Homo sapiens: one gene and its partner. The protein of the gene in region 1 interacts with the protein of each later gene in a pairwise test. Each region holds a gene or a part of one and is shown on either strand. Other genes may lie near its edges.

Evidence for each region.
Region 2: the proteins of UNC93A (region 1) and SLC35E4 interact in binary tests that used the Homo sapiens proteins (3 or more experiments, as listed by UniProt).

Annotation. Positions count from the first base shown.
Region 1 is NC_000006.12:167,294,312-167,301,338, forward strand, and holds part of UNC93A (protein unc-93 homolog A), read left to right. Parts: intron 1-205; coding exon 206-387; intron 388-1,720; coding exon 1,721-1,950; intron 1,951-3,633; coding exon 3,634-3,759; intron 3,760-7,027.
Region 2 is NC_000022.11:30,638,759-30,645,785, reverse strand, and holds part of SLC35E4 (solute carrier family 35 member E4), read right to left. Parts: intron 1-7,027. UniProt on the Homo sapiens protein: Putative transporter.

The sequences.
Region 1 (7,027 bases):
TTTAGACACACTAACTGCTTTATTCCGAATTCACCTGCACTTTTCTCCCACCAGCTTCAGAGGAGGCTCCCAGGGCAGCAAGCCTGTGGCTGGCGGTTCCTGGGAGCTGTGGCGGCCTCCAGCCTGGGGGACACTGAGGACCTGCTGGTGCCTCATCCCGCTGTGTCCATCCTGTGCTCTGACAGGGCTGGCTTTGTTCCCACAGAGCAGCCTGTACAGCGAGGAGGGCCTGGGTGTCACAGCGCTCAGCACCCTCTATGGAGGCATGCTCCTGTCCTCCATGTTCCTCCCACCGCTCCTCATCGAGAGGCTGGGCTGCAAGGGGACCATCATCCTCTCCATGTGTGGCTACGTGGCCTTCTCCGTGGGCAACTTCTTCGCCAGCTGGTACGCAGCCACCACCCCCTGCCCACCCCACCCCGGCCGTTCCCCACGCTAGGGACGTTCACTCTGCACATGAGTTGCATTTGCACCTGATTACTGTTCACTGCAGGCATTTTAAAATGAGCTCTCCTGCCCCTGCACCCCCGCCTCGCTTTGGTGACAGACGGTGCTGGGCTTCCTTCCTGTTTTCCCACCAAGGCTCCTCTGTGCCCCCCACTGCTTCTGTCTCCTCCTCCCGATCCCCGATGCTGGCCTCTCCCTGGGATCCGTCCTGGTCCTCAGCTCCCCTGGCTGGGCGAGGGTTCCAGTAACACAGGGGACTCTAACTGCAATGCAGATGGTGAGTCTCGTGGGCACCTAGGCAGATGTCACCAATGGACCGAAAGCTGCACCTCGCCCACCATTAGGAGGTGGGTATGGCCAGGGCAGGTCACAGGGATGGGAGGCCACCCTGCTCCCTGGTGAGATGGACCACAGAGACTGAGCTCTGAGGGCTTTGGCCTGCACCCCAGGCCCCGGGAACACAGCCATGGAGCATCTCTTCCAGGGACCCTGGTTGTGCCAGGACATGCTGCTGATGATGGCTGCAAGTCCTTCTTCCCGGTAGCTGCAGAGTCTTACATGGCATGCCGCCGCTGAGGCCCGAGCCGGTCACTAGGTCTTTTTAACCGGGGCTGTCCCTCGGCCTCCCTCGTGCTCCTCGCCTCCCTCGTGCTCCTCGCCTCCCTCGTGATCCTCGGCCTCCCTCGTGCTCCTCGCCTCCCTCGTGCTCCTCGCCTCCCTCGTGAACCTCGCCTCCCTCGTGATCCTCGCCTGCCTCGTGCTCCTCGCCTGCCTCGTGCTCCTCGCCTCCCTCGTGCTCCTCGCCTCCCTCGTGATCCTCGCCTGCCTCGTGCTCCTCGCCTCCCTCGTGCTCCTCGCCTCCCTCGTGCTCCTCGCCTGCCTCGTGCTCCTCGCCTCCCTCGTGATCCTCGCCTGCCTCGTGCTCCTCGCCTGCCTCGTGCTCCTCGCCTCCCTCGTGCTCCTCGCCTTCCTCGTGCTCCTCGCCTCCCTCGTGCTCCTCACCTTGTTGTTTGCAATCGCATCCGATACAAGGAGCCTCACTGGCTTCAATTTCACTTTTGCAAATCAGTCCAAGCTAGGAAATGCACTGATATTGCTCATTTTTCTGAGTGTAATGGTGAATCCATCCATCCAACCAGCAACACTCATCACCACGCTTGCAATGGGCCAGGCGGTGGTTCCTTCTCCCAGATTGACTAAAGAACTGCAGGGACATGGGTGCAATGGGCTTGCGTCTCCTGTTACAGGCTATGGGTCTGCATTTTACCCACAGGTACACTTTGATCCCCACCTCCATACTGCTGGGACTCGGGGCCGCCCCGCTGTGGTCTGCACAGTGCACATACCTCACGATCACGGGAAACACACATGCAGAGAAGGCGGGAAAGCGTGGCAAAGACATGGTGAACCAGTATTTTGGCATCTTCTTCCTCATATTCCAGTCATCCGGTGTGTGGGGCAACTTGATCTCATCGCTGGTATTTGGCCAGACTCCCAGCCAAGGTAAAAGGAAAAGGGGCAAGCAATTGTCTCCAAGTGGAGCAGGGGTTTCAGTGATGGGGGAGAGGGTTCCTGATTTCAGTTGCACACCTGCCTTGATTCTGTAACTTGAGCAGGTGAGTCAGGCCCCACAGGTGAGATTCTCAACCTGCCTGTGCTTCAGAGTTGCCTGTTACCTGCTGTCTTCTGGACAGTCGGGTGGGACTGAAGAAGATCTGCGTCTTCCACAGGTGCCTCCGCAGGGGCAGGGGAGCCCTTGGGAGAGGGCGCCATGGGAAACTGAGGGCCACGCCAGTAGAATTTGTGTTCATGGAGTCTCAACTGCACAACTGTCCTTTTTAGACTAAGGATGGGGTTGCCTGATTTCTTTTCCCTGTGACTTGATACAATGACCAGATTTTCAAATGTTTTATGACAGGCCCCTTATCCCATGACAGATGTGGACATTGGATGGGCTGATGCCCTGGCTCCTCTGTCTCTACCCGACCTTGCCCTGGTATAAATATAAAGTGCATATCTCATTTGTGCCCATGACCTTAGTGCCCACGTTGAGGCTTTAAGCACAGGGCAGAGGACATACATCTCTTTCATGCTTACAGGAAAACTTTCCCAACGGGGTAAAAACCAATCCAGCCCTCCTGACTAGTATCACAACTATTTCTATCACTTCATCAAGGTTCTCCATCTTGCTATCCCATAAAAATCCCACGCTTGGTAAACTCTGTAGCCAAAACCCCTCTCCCTTTTTCTCATGCGATGTCATGCCTGCTAAGTGCATTTGAAGAAGGGAAGCCGTGAAGGTGATGCATAGCAATTTTTACTCATTATTGCTGTTGGTGTCAGCAACAATGAAACAGAAACTGGGGTTACAGCTCAGTCTGCATATCACGGCCAGTGAAGTGGAGGAACAGGCATTTCTTTCGAAGACCTTTCTGCAGGTGAGTTAGTTCTCCAAGTCAGCACAGGACACAGAATCTGGGGCTGGAGGGATTTGGAGGGCGTCGTGTGCTTCTCCACCTTCTTGTACCTTCTCTTATCAGCTGCACATCTCACCCACCTAGAAGATTTTGTGAAGCTGTCTGTTATATAATTTGTGTTATTAAAATAATAAAAACACTGAATATTCTTTCTCCCACCACATCTTTCTCCTTTCCCCAGAGATTCTGACAGGACTTCTGACTGAGAGTCATTGCTAATTCAAATTGTATTTTTCTAAGAGATCACAGAACTAACGTTAGTTTTCAAAAACAGAAAAGTTATGAAATCACCTGCCCAAAGTCATTGAGTTGGTAACAGATGAATCTGAAAGAGAATCCAGCATTCCTGGCACCCAATCTCATGTACTTTTTTCTTTTTGACTAATTTTGAAAACTTGAAAAATTTTAATTATGTCAGAAAAGCAGTAAAACAAGTAACCAGCACTTTTCCAAGTTCATTCTTCCCTGAATCTTTGCAGAACACGAATAGGATTTTCCACCTCCCAAAGTGTCTTAAATCGAGTCTAGGGACATGTGCCTAGACTCGATCTAAATCTATTTTGAGACACTGGGTCTTTCCACGTGACCTGTAGTGATGCCTCCCCCCAGGTGTCCAATGTCCTTTCCACTGTCACTTTGATTTCTCAAGAACCTACATCTTGTCACATTTGCCGTCATCTCATGTCTCCTGTCCACTCTGACTTCATAGAGACCCTTCCAGAAGAGCAGCTCACGTCCTGTGGGGCCAGTGACTGCCTGATGGCCACCACAACCACCAACAGCACCCAGAGGCCCTCCCAGCAGCTGGTCTACACCCTCCTGGGCATCTACACTGGTACGAGCTCCATCGGCCCAGGGCAGGGTCCCTAGCAAAGCAGAGCCAAGCCTCCTTCCTGGGCTGACAAAGACTGTCTCTCCCAATGTAAAAGTAATCTCTCTTCTTCTGAAATATCCTTGCAAAATGTATTGGTCTGGATTATATGCAGGCGGTGTTCTTATGAATCAAATGCAGTACACCCGTGCTGTCTAACAGAGGATCCTGGGGTGATGAGATTGTTATACATCTCCAGAGCCCAACACAGCAGCCATTAAGCACTGTGGTTGTTTACATCTTAACTGATTAAAGTTTCAGTTCCTAAGTCTCCCAGCCACACTGCAAGTGCTCAGCAGTACGGGGGCTGGCGGCTACCATTACAGACAGCTTGGTGGCTGGCTAGGGCACTGGGATTGACTGTTTGTGTTTCAGCTGTGGCCAAGGGGCCCTGAACATCCATAATTGCTATAAGCCACTTTTTTTTTTTTTTCTGAGAAATGTGCTGAGTACCTTCTGTGGAAAGGCTAGAGGGGCGAGTGCTCCCAAGTGCTTGTTGCACCTTAGCTGGAGACGTTGCAAGCTCATGGTGAAAGGGCTGCCCAAAGGAAGTTAATTGTCATGACGAGGCTCATTCTTAGAAGTTCATTTTAATAGAGAATGTTATGTAATAGTTTCATATGTGACTTCAGTGTTATAGTCAAAGGTTTATTACAACTTTGAAGGGGATACATTTAGAGAGTTTTAAAAACCATTTTGTAAATAATTTAAATATTTTTTTTTTTGGCTGGGCATGGTGGCTCACACCTGTAATCTCAGCACTTTGGGAGGCTGAGGCGGGCAGATCACTTGAGGTCAGGAGTTCGAGACCAGCCTGGCCAACATGGTGAAACCCCATTTGCACTAAAAATACAAAAATTAGCTGAGCGAGCATGGTGGCATATGCCTGTTATCCCAGCTACTCGGGGGGCTGAGGCAGGAGAATCACTTGAACCCGGGAGGTGGAGGTTGCAGTGAGCCAAGATCGCGCTGCTGCACTCCAGCCTGGGCAACAGAGCGAGACTCCATCTCAAAAAAAAAAAAATACACACACACACACACACACATATTTATATATGCATGTACATATACATATACACGTATATATTTCTATATGTATATATATATATATATATTCTTTGTCATTCTTGGATTTGGGGATTCATAAAGGCCTTGGAATGGGTCCTTCTTAAAGATCAAAGGCCTGGCACCTGTGAGCTCTGGGGGTACCAACTCCTGCACTCTGCCGGGGTCAGAGGTGAGGAGGGTTCGTGGGCACTGCAGAGCTTTTCCTCATGCTGAGATGATGTGCGGCACCAACCTCAGGTCCCCTCAGGCCACTTCCACATCAGAGGCTCTGAGTGAGCACTTGTAAAGCTATCGCTGGAAGTCGACAAAGTGTACTGAGCACGTGCTAGGCCATGCTAGGCCTTCTTGGTCCAGACATTCAGATGACTAGAAGCTCGCCTTTAGTAAGCTGAGAGCCTAGTGAAGGAGGCAGACACACACCCAACTAACCGAGACCAGTCCGACAGTGTTCTGAGCACAGTTCCCAGCTGACTTGCAGCTGCATCTCCCTGGAGCACGGAGTTTCAGGAAAGCCTCCAAGGGCGGGTGGTCCCTAAGCCGAGTCTGGACAATGAGCAAGATTTGGCCAGGCAGGGAAGTGATGCTGAAGTCCCTGGAGGCGAGATGTCCAGGAAGAGCCCGCAGGGCTGGGGGCAAGGTGGAGGGGCAGAAATGGGGCACAAGACTAGCTGTGGCCCTTGATGTTGTGCCAAAGGGTCTGGACGAGTGCAGACTTGCCTTCTTGACAGACCCCATGCCAGCGTGACTTAGAGGTGCAGAGAGACAGCGGGCAGAGACCCACTGAGGACGGAGTGCTGAGTCCAGAGGAGGGAGCAGGTACGGGGAGGCAGAGATGGAGGGGCTGAGAGAGAGGCCAGCAGGGTCCGTGTGGGTTGGACATGGTGTGGGGAAGAGAAGACAGCCCTGGGGTTGACAGGAAGATGAGCTCAGGCCGGGAACACCTGGCTTGAGGACGCAGTGGGACTCTTGCATAGTGTCCAGTGGGCAGTCTGACGCCGTGCAGGGCTCAGGCCAGAGGCCAATGCAAGTGTGGACGTGGAGGCATCTTCCAACATGGTGACTGGAATCATGTCAGGGATGAGGCTCTTAGGGAGAAAAAGCAGAGGGAATTGTTACAGAGAAGGGAGTATAGCTGGACCCCTGGTTCAGCAACACTGAGGGCCAGGCAGACAACTGGAGCCTTGGAAGGAGACAGAAAACCAAACCAGGGTCTTGGAGGACACCAGGGTTGTAGAATCAGCTGGGGAGGGGGTTTGAGAGTGTTGAGTGTGGCAGGGCCCCTAGGAGGCTCAGGGGGGAGGCTGGACGAGGCTCTTAGCCAGTGAGAGGCTGTTGATGCCCATCAGGCGAGCAACCTGGGGAGGGTGCTCGTGTGCAAGGCCCAGACTGAGGGTTTCAGAAGTGAGTGGAAGGTGTGGACAGGGAGTCAGGAGGAGCCACGGTTTTCTCTGGTCTGCAAGTCTCTGCTGACTTGGAATTGTGGTCATGTTTTCCCAGCAGGCCCCAAGGTTCCCATCAACATGGTCCCAGGGACCAGCCAGGCCTGTGCTTCCCCAACACTTCCCCTCACCACCTCCTCTACATAACTAGGAGGCTGGGGGACTCGGGGACATTGAGCTGAGTCAAGACCATCAGGTCTCCTTCCAGCTCCACAAATTCCAGTTAGGCAGCCACCAACAAAGACTTCTCCTATCTATAAAAGAACAGAATTTTGGAGTGGGGGCTGCAGCCTTCCTCTGTGAAGGGCTGACAGCAAATATTCCTACATGTAAGTATCTTTCTGAGGATCATATGGTCCTTGTTGCAATTGTTCAACATTGTCTTTGTAATGGGAAAAAGCCATAGACAACATGTAAGCAAATGAGCATGCCTGCATGCCAATAAAACTTTATTTTCAAAAGCAGGCAGTGGGCAGGCTTTGGCCCGCAGGCCATAGTTTGCTGGCCCCTGCTCTAGAGGAACAGCACAGGCTTCTCTGTGGCTTCCAGGCCCTTCATTGCCAGCTGTCCTCCGCAGGTGGCTGTTGTCTGTGGAACCTCCCCTGCAGGGTTACCCCCAGTGTGCTCTCTGGCCACAGCCCCATCTCGGTTCACGGAATCCCGCAGCCTAAGGGAGTCCAAGTCTAGAAGTTATGTAGAGCAGAGATCACACACATGTAAATGAA
Region 2 (7,027 bases), on another chromosome or scaffold:
AGCACTTTGAGAGGCTGAGGCAGGAGGATCACTTGAGCCCAGAGGAAGGCTACAGTGAGCTATGATGATGCTACTACACTCCACCTCAATGACCAGAGCAAGACCCTGTCTCTAAAAAATAAAAATAAATCTTCAGGGGCTGCCCTGGCCCTGAAGGTCCTAGGTTCTTTTTTTTTTTTTTTTTTTTTTTGGAGACAGAGTCTTGCTCTGTTGCCCAGGCTGGAATGCAGTGGAATGATCTCGGCTTGCTGCAACTTCTGCCTCCCAGGTTCAAGTGATTCTCCTGCCTCAGTCTCCCAAGTAGCTGGGATCACAGGCATGCGCCACCACAACTGGCTAATTTTTGTATTTTTAGTAGAGACGGGGTTTCGCCATGTTGGCCAGGCTGGTCTCGAACTCCTGACCTCAGGTGATCCTCCCACCTCGGCCTCCCAAAGTGCTGGGATTACAGGCGTTGAGCCAGTGCACCCAGCCCAGGGTTCTTCACCCAGCTTCGAAGACTCTGCATCAACTGGCCCCAACCACCTTTCCCGCCTCAGCCCCTATCACTCCCACACTGCAGTTCCAGCCACCATGAAAGGGCAGGCCAGCAGAGGGTCCCAGCTCTGCCACTTACTAGCCACATGGGGGCCTTTGCATTAAAAAAGAAGAGTTTATAAAAGAAAATAATAAATTGGGTCAAAAGTGTGACCCATTCATTGCCTCATTCACTTATGACCACTGGAGTGACAAGGGGACAAAAGGTCATTGTGGGATCTTGGCTCTCACTCACTGTTTATAACTGATAATCAGCATCTTTTTTTTTTCCTGCTAATACTGTGGCTTGTCAAGATGAATCCAGGACTAAGAGGAAACCTTTTCACTTTGTAAGGCAGGAGGGGATCTTGCTGCTTTGCCTATGTGTGACTGTGTATCTGTGTGTACCTACGTGTACACATGCCACCACCAGCCAATTCACAAAGGGGTGCCCAGGCGAAATGACATTATTATTATTATTTGAGACAGGGTCTGGTTCTCTTGCCCAGGCGAAATGACATTATTATTATTATTTGAGACAGGGTCTGGTTCTCTTGCCCAGGCTGGAGTGTAGTGGTACGATGTCAGTTTACTGCCTTCCGAGCTCAAGCGATCCTCCCTTCTCAGCCTCCCAAGTAGCTGGGGCTACAGGCATGCACCATCACCCCTGAAAATTTTTGTATTTTTTGTAGAGATGGGGTTTCGTCATCTGGTTCACCCAGGCTGGTCTCAAACTCCTAGACTCAAGCAATCTGCTCAGCTTGGCCTCCCAAAGTGCTGGGATTACAGGTGTGAGCCATTGCGCCTGGCTGAAATGACATTATTTGCATGAGGGCAATGATGGCATGGGGCCTTTGCCAAGTTAGTGGAGAGAGATGAGTAGTCGACACAGGTCCCCTCCCAGGCCTCTGTGAGCCTCTATGCATTTTCTGACACACACTTTCCAAAAAGCCACAGAGATGCTTACTCATAGGCTATGCTTAGAATAGGAAATTTTATTTCTCTCTCAATTTCATTCCGATGTTTTAGCTTTGTTCTCTAGGCAACAAACAGTCCCTCTGGCTCAAGCGTTTCTAGAAATGAACAGATAATCAGAATGCCTCCTGCTCGCAGGCTCGAAAGTTAACAGTGTTATGAGCTACCTGTGGCTTGCACATTAAACGTCCCATCACAAGAAGGCGGTTGGGTTTTCAGGTGAACTTCACCTTTGGTAAATTTCACCCTCTGCAAGGCAGCCAGGCAGGAAGGTCCTAAACTTCCCACCCATCTCCTCACACCTATTGTACATCCCACCCAATCCTCCACCTCCCCTCCCTGCAGCCCAGGGAAAGGGCAGCCATTCGCTGTCAGAGGCGGTGACTGGCTTCTACCTGGGGACCCCAAAATGTCAGCCTGTTTGTCCTGCCTCATTGCCACCTCTCCTTCTATTGGAACATGCCCAAGTTTCTGCCACATGCAGACAACAGCTGACCCTTCTCTAAACCCTGTCTGCTTGCTATTGGCTTGGCCCTTTTGCTCTTTCACGGGCTGTGTGATACTGTCTCCCTCTCTCCACGCCTCAGTCTCCTTAAGTCGTGTGGCTCGGGTAGCAACAGCCCCCTCACATGTGAGGTGCTGAACACAGGGCCTGATGCCCTGTGTGATGTCCTTGATGCCGGCTCACCCCGGCAGCTGGCATGATCCCCACACCCTGCTCCTGCTGGCTGACACCCTGTGCCCTGGCACGGCCTGTTTCCCATTCCCAGATCACCCTTTCCTCCTCCTTCAGTATGAAGAGCTGGGCATGGTGTGGGCACCTAGGGAGGCCCCAACAAATGTTTGCTCTCATGGTTACATTATTGTCATCATCATTGCATGTCTCTTCCCCTAGATAGCCTTCTCAGCGCTCCCCAGGAAGAAGCAACCGCTCCCCAACACGTGTGACCACTTTGACTCTAGAACTTCTTTTCTGCCATCATGATCTCTATATCTGAGTGCATCTCCCCCATCAGCCTGAGAGCTCAGAGGGGTTGAGTCCGCCTGCTCTGTGATGCGGACGGGCGGGGGAGTCCAGCTGAGAGCAAGCTCAGCAGGCTGGCGCCCCACTTCCCACCCTTTCTGTGGGTAGGAGGATGGCATAACCCCTCTCCTTGTGCAGGCTCCCTGGGCCTACAACTGGCCCAAGAAGGAGGGAAGTCGCTGGCCCTGCCAACAGCTGCCTGGGCTCTCCTCTTTCTGGATACTTTTTTTTTTTTTTTTTTGAGACGGAGTCTCACTCTGTCGCCCAGGCTGGAGTGTAGTAGCGCTATCTGGGCTCACTGCAAGCTCCGCCTCCCGGGTTCACGCCATTCTCCTGCCTCAGCCTCCCGACTAGCTGGGACTACAGGTGCCCACCACCACACCTGGCTATTTTTTTGTATTTTTTAGTAGAGACGGGGTTTCACTGTGTTAGCCAGGATGGTCTCAATCTCCTGACCTCATGATCCACCCACCTTGGCCTCCCAAAGTGCTGGGATTACAGGTGTGAACCACCGTGCCTGGCCTTTTTTTTTTTTTTTTTTGAGATGTTGCCCAGGCTAGAGTGCAATGGTGTGATATCTCGGCTCACTGCAACCTCCGCCTCCCTGGTTCAAGAGATTCTCCTACCTCAGCCTCCCGAGTAGCTGGGATGACAGGCATGCACCAGCATGCCCAGCTAATTTTTTTTGTATTTTTAGTAGAGACGGGGATTCACCATGCTGGCCAGGCTGGTCTCGAACTCCTGACCTCAAGTGAGCTGCCTGCCTTGGCTTCCCAAAGTGCTGGGATTACAGGCGTGAGCCACCATGCCCAGCCTTCTTTCTGGATACTTGCCCTCTGCTCCCACAAACTCTGCTCTCAGGAATGGAGCTGGCATCAGCCACGTACACTCACGTCTGAATCTGGCCCTGGTGCCTCTCCTGGAGCCTCCTGCAGTAGAAACCTTTTGTTCAAAACCTATCTCAGGCTGGGTGTGGTGGCTCATGCCCGTAATCCCAGCACTTTAGGCCGAGGTGGGTAAATCACTTGAGTCTAGGAGTTGGAGACCAGCCTGGGCAACATGATGAAACCCCATTTCTACAAAAAATACAAAAATTAGCTGGGCATGGAGGCACGCCTATAGTCCTAGCTACTCGGGAGGCTGAGGTGGGAGGATTGCCCGAGCCTGGGAAATTGAGGCCGCAGTGAGCCACTGCACTCCAGCCTGGATGACAGAGCAAGACCCTCTCATAAACAAACAAACAAACAAGCAAAAAAAGCCTATCTCAGGCCCTGGCTCAAGTCTGTTCCTCCCCATCTCTGCAGGGCTCCTATCTCTGTTAGTGGGGCCTCTAGCCCCCTAAACTCCCTCCTGAATCAGGCAGCCCAACCAGTCTATGAGATCAGCTCGCCTGTCAGAGCCATCAGTAAATCTGTCGGCATGTTGGCTCACACCTGTAATTCCAGCACTTTGGGAGGCCCGGAGGGAAGATCACTTGAGGCCAGGGGTTTGAGACCAGCCTGGGCAACATAGTGAGCCTGTTTCTAAAAAAAAAAAAAAAAAAAAAAAAAAATTAAAAATTAGCCAGGACGGTGGCATGAGCCTGTAGTCCCAGCTACTCAGGAGGCTGAGGCACAAGAATTGCTTGAAACCAGGAGGCAGAGGTTGCAATGAGCTGAGATTGCACTGCTGCATTCCAGCCTGGGCGACAGAGAGAGATTGTCTCAAAAAAAAAAATAATAAAATAAAATTTAAAAATTATAATTTACAAATTATGTATCCTCTGCAAGGCCCCAGGGCTAGGTTCCAGGAACATAGAATTGCCCCAAATCTGTCTGGCAGGCAGCAGACAGGTAACCAGGTGGTGATCATACATGGCATTTGGAACCATGATAGGGGGAGCAGAGGATACCGCAGGAGCCCAGAGCAAGGACTCAACCTCCCAGGGGTCAGGAGTTAAGACTAGGGAGGGAGGGAAGGAGGGAGCTGGCAGGAGTCAAGATGCAGCCCGATGCCAGGCACATGCCACTCCATGCCCAAGTGCCTGAGGCCTGGCCGGCCATTGCCCCTCCTGCAGGCTGGGGCTGCCTGGGTCCCAGTGTGAGAAGCACTGACTCTTTCTCAGCAGGGGCAGCATGGGCCTTGAGGTTAGGACCTTCACAGCCCTGTGGCCTGCACAGGGGTGCCCACAGGTCAGGTTTCCCAGTGCAGACTCATGCCCAGAGCTCATGCCTGTGCTCAGCCTCTAGCTCTCATGTAACCTGAGGGCAAAAAATAGAACTGGGTTTTGACCCTGCCTTGGAGCCAGGGAGGATAGAGATAGGGCCTCTGTGTCAGCTCTGAATACGCCAGGGCAGGGCTGAACTCTGACTTCAATCTTCCCTGGCTGTGGGCTGTCATCAATCCCAGCCCAGCACTCTTGGTGTGCCCACTTCCTTCTCCCAGGCCTGGGTCACAGGATCTCAGGGCGAAGGGAGAGCAAGAGGCCCCTTGGACTCCATCAACTCCAACTCTCCTCCACTGACAGATGAGGAAACTGAGGCCCAGATAAAATCCCAATATGCCCAAGGTTGCCCAGCAAATATGAGCAAAGGTATGGCTGGAACCCAGGCCTCCCCACCCTGAGTGGGCACCCTGGCCTCCCCTATGTCTCCTTGGGTTGAGGCAGAGAGAGGATAGAGGCTGCGACTCAGATGCCCCTCAGTAGGAAAGGCAGGAAGCCAGCCTTCGCCCTCAGGCAGAATGATCTAGTGGGTCTGGGCCTGGAGCCTCGGCCCTAAACTGCCCAGAGCCCTGCTGCCCTCTTTCATCAGAGCCAGCATCTGGAGTCACATAGACCATGCTTCACATCATTAGGGACCCCGTGACCTCTGTGCAAATCATGAACTTCTTTCTTTCTTTCTTCTTTTTTTTTTTTTTTTTGAGATGGAGTCTAGCTCTGTCCCTAGGCTGGAGTGCAGTGGCGTGATCTCGGCTCACTGCAACCTCTGCCTCCTGGGTTCAAGTGATTCTCCTGCCTCAGGTTCCCGAGTAGGGGGGATTACAGGCAGGCGCCACCACGCCCAGCTAATTTTTGTAATTTTAGTAGACAGGGTTTCACCACGTTGGCCAGGATGGTCTTGATCTCCTGACCTCGTGATCCTCCCACCTCTGTTGCGGGAAGTCAGGGACCCCAAACGGAGGGACCAGCTGAAGCCATTGCAGAAGAACGTGGATTGTGAAGATTTCATGGACATTTATTAGTTTCCCAAATTAATACTTTTGTAATTTCTTACGCCTGTCTTTACTGCAATCTCTGAACATAAATTGTGAAGATTTCATGGACACTTATCACTTCTCCAACCAATACCCTTGTGATTTCCTATGCCTATCTTTAATCTCTTAATCCCATCATCTTCGTAAGCTGAGGAGGCTGTATGTCGCCTCAGGACCCTGTGATGATTGCGTTAACTGCACAAATTGTAGAGCATGTGTGTTTGAACAATATGAAATCTGGGCACCTTGAAAGAACAGGATAACAGCAATGTTCAGGGAACAAGAGAGATAATCTTAAACTCTGACTGCCGGTGAGCCGGGTGGAACAGAGCCATATTTCTCTTCTTTCAAAAGCAAATGGGAGAAATGTTGCTGAATTCTTTTTCTCAGCAAGGGACATCCTTGAGAAAGAGAATGCGTCCCTGAGGGTAGGCCTCTAAAATGGCTGCTTCTGGGGGGCGGCCATCTTTTATGGTCGAAGCTGTAGGGATGAAATAAGCCCCAGTCTCCCATAGCGCTCCCAGGCTTATTAGGACGAGGAAATTCCCGCCTAATAAATTTTGGTCAGACTGGTTGTCTGCTCTCAAACCCTGTCTCTTGATAAGATGTTATCAATGACAATGCGTGCCCGAAACTTCATTAGCAATTTTAATTTCACCCCGGTCCTATGGTCCTGTGATCTGGCCCTGCCTCCATTTGCCTTGTGATATTCTATTACCTTGTGAAGCACGTGGTCTCTGTGACCCACATCCTATTGGTACACTCCCTCCCCTTTTGAAAATCACTAATCAAAACTTGCTGGTTTTATGGCTCAGGGGGCATCACGGAACCTGCCGACATATGATGTCTCCCCCGGACACCCAGCTTTAAAATTTCTCCCTTTTGTACTCTGTCCCTTTATTTCTCAGACCAGCTGACACTTAGGTAATACAGAAAAGAACCTACGTGAAATATCAGGGGTGAATTTCGCCCGATATCTGGCTGAATTTCCCCCAATACACCTCAGCCTCCCAAAGTGCTGGGATTACAGGTGTGAGCCACTGCGCTGGGCTGAACTTCTTTCTTTTTCTTGAGACAGAGTCTCATTCTGTCGCCCAGGCTGGAGTGCAGTGGTGTAATCTCAGCTCACTGCAACCTCCTTCTCCCGGGTTCAAGGAATTCTTATGCCTCAGCCTCCCCAGTAGCTGGGATTACAGGTGCATGCCACCTGGCCCGGCTAATTTTGAGACAGAGTTTCACTCTTGTTACCCAGGCTGGAGTGCAATAGCGTGATCTCAG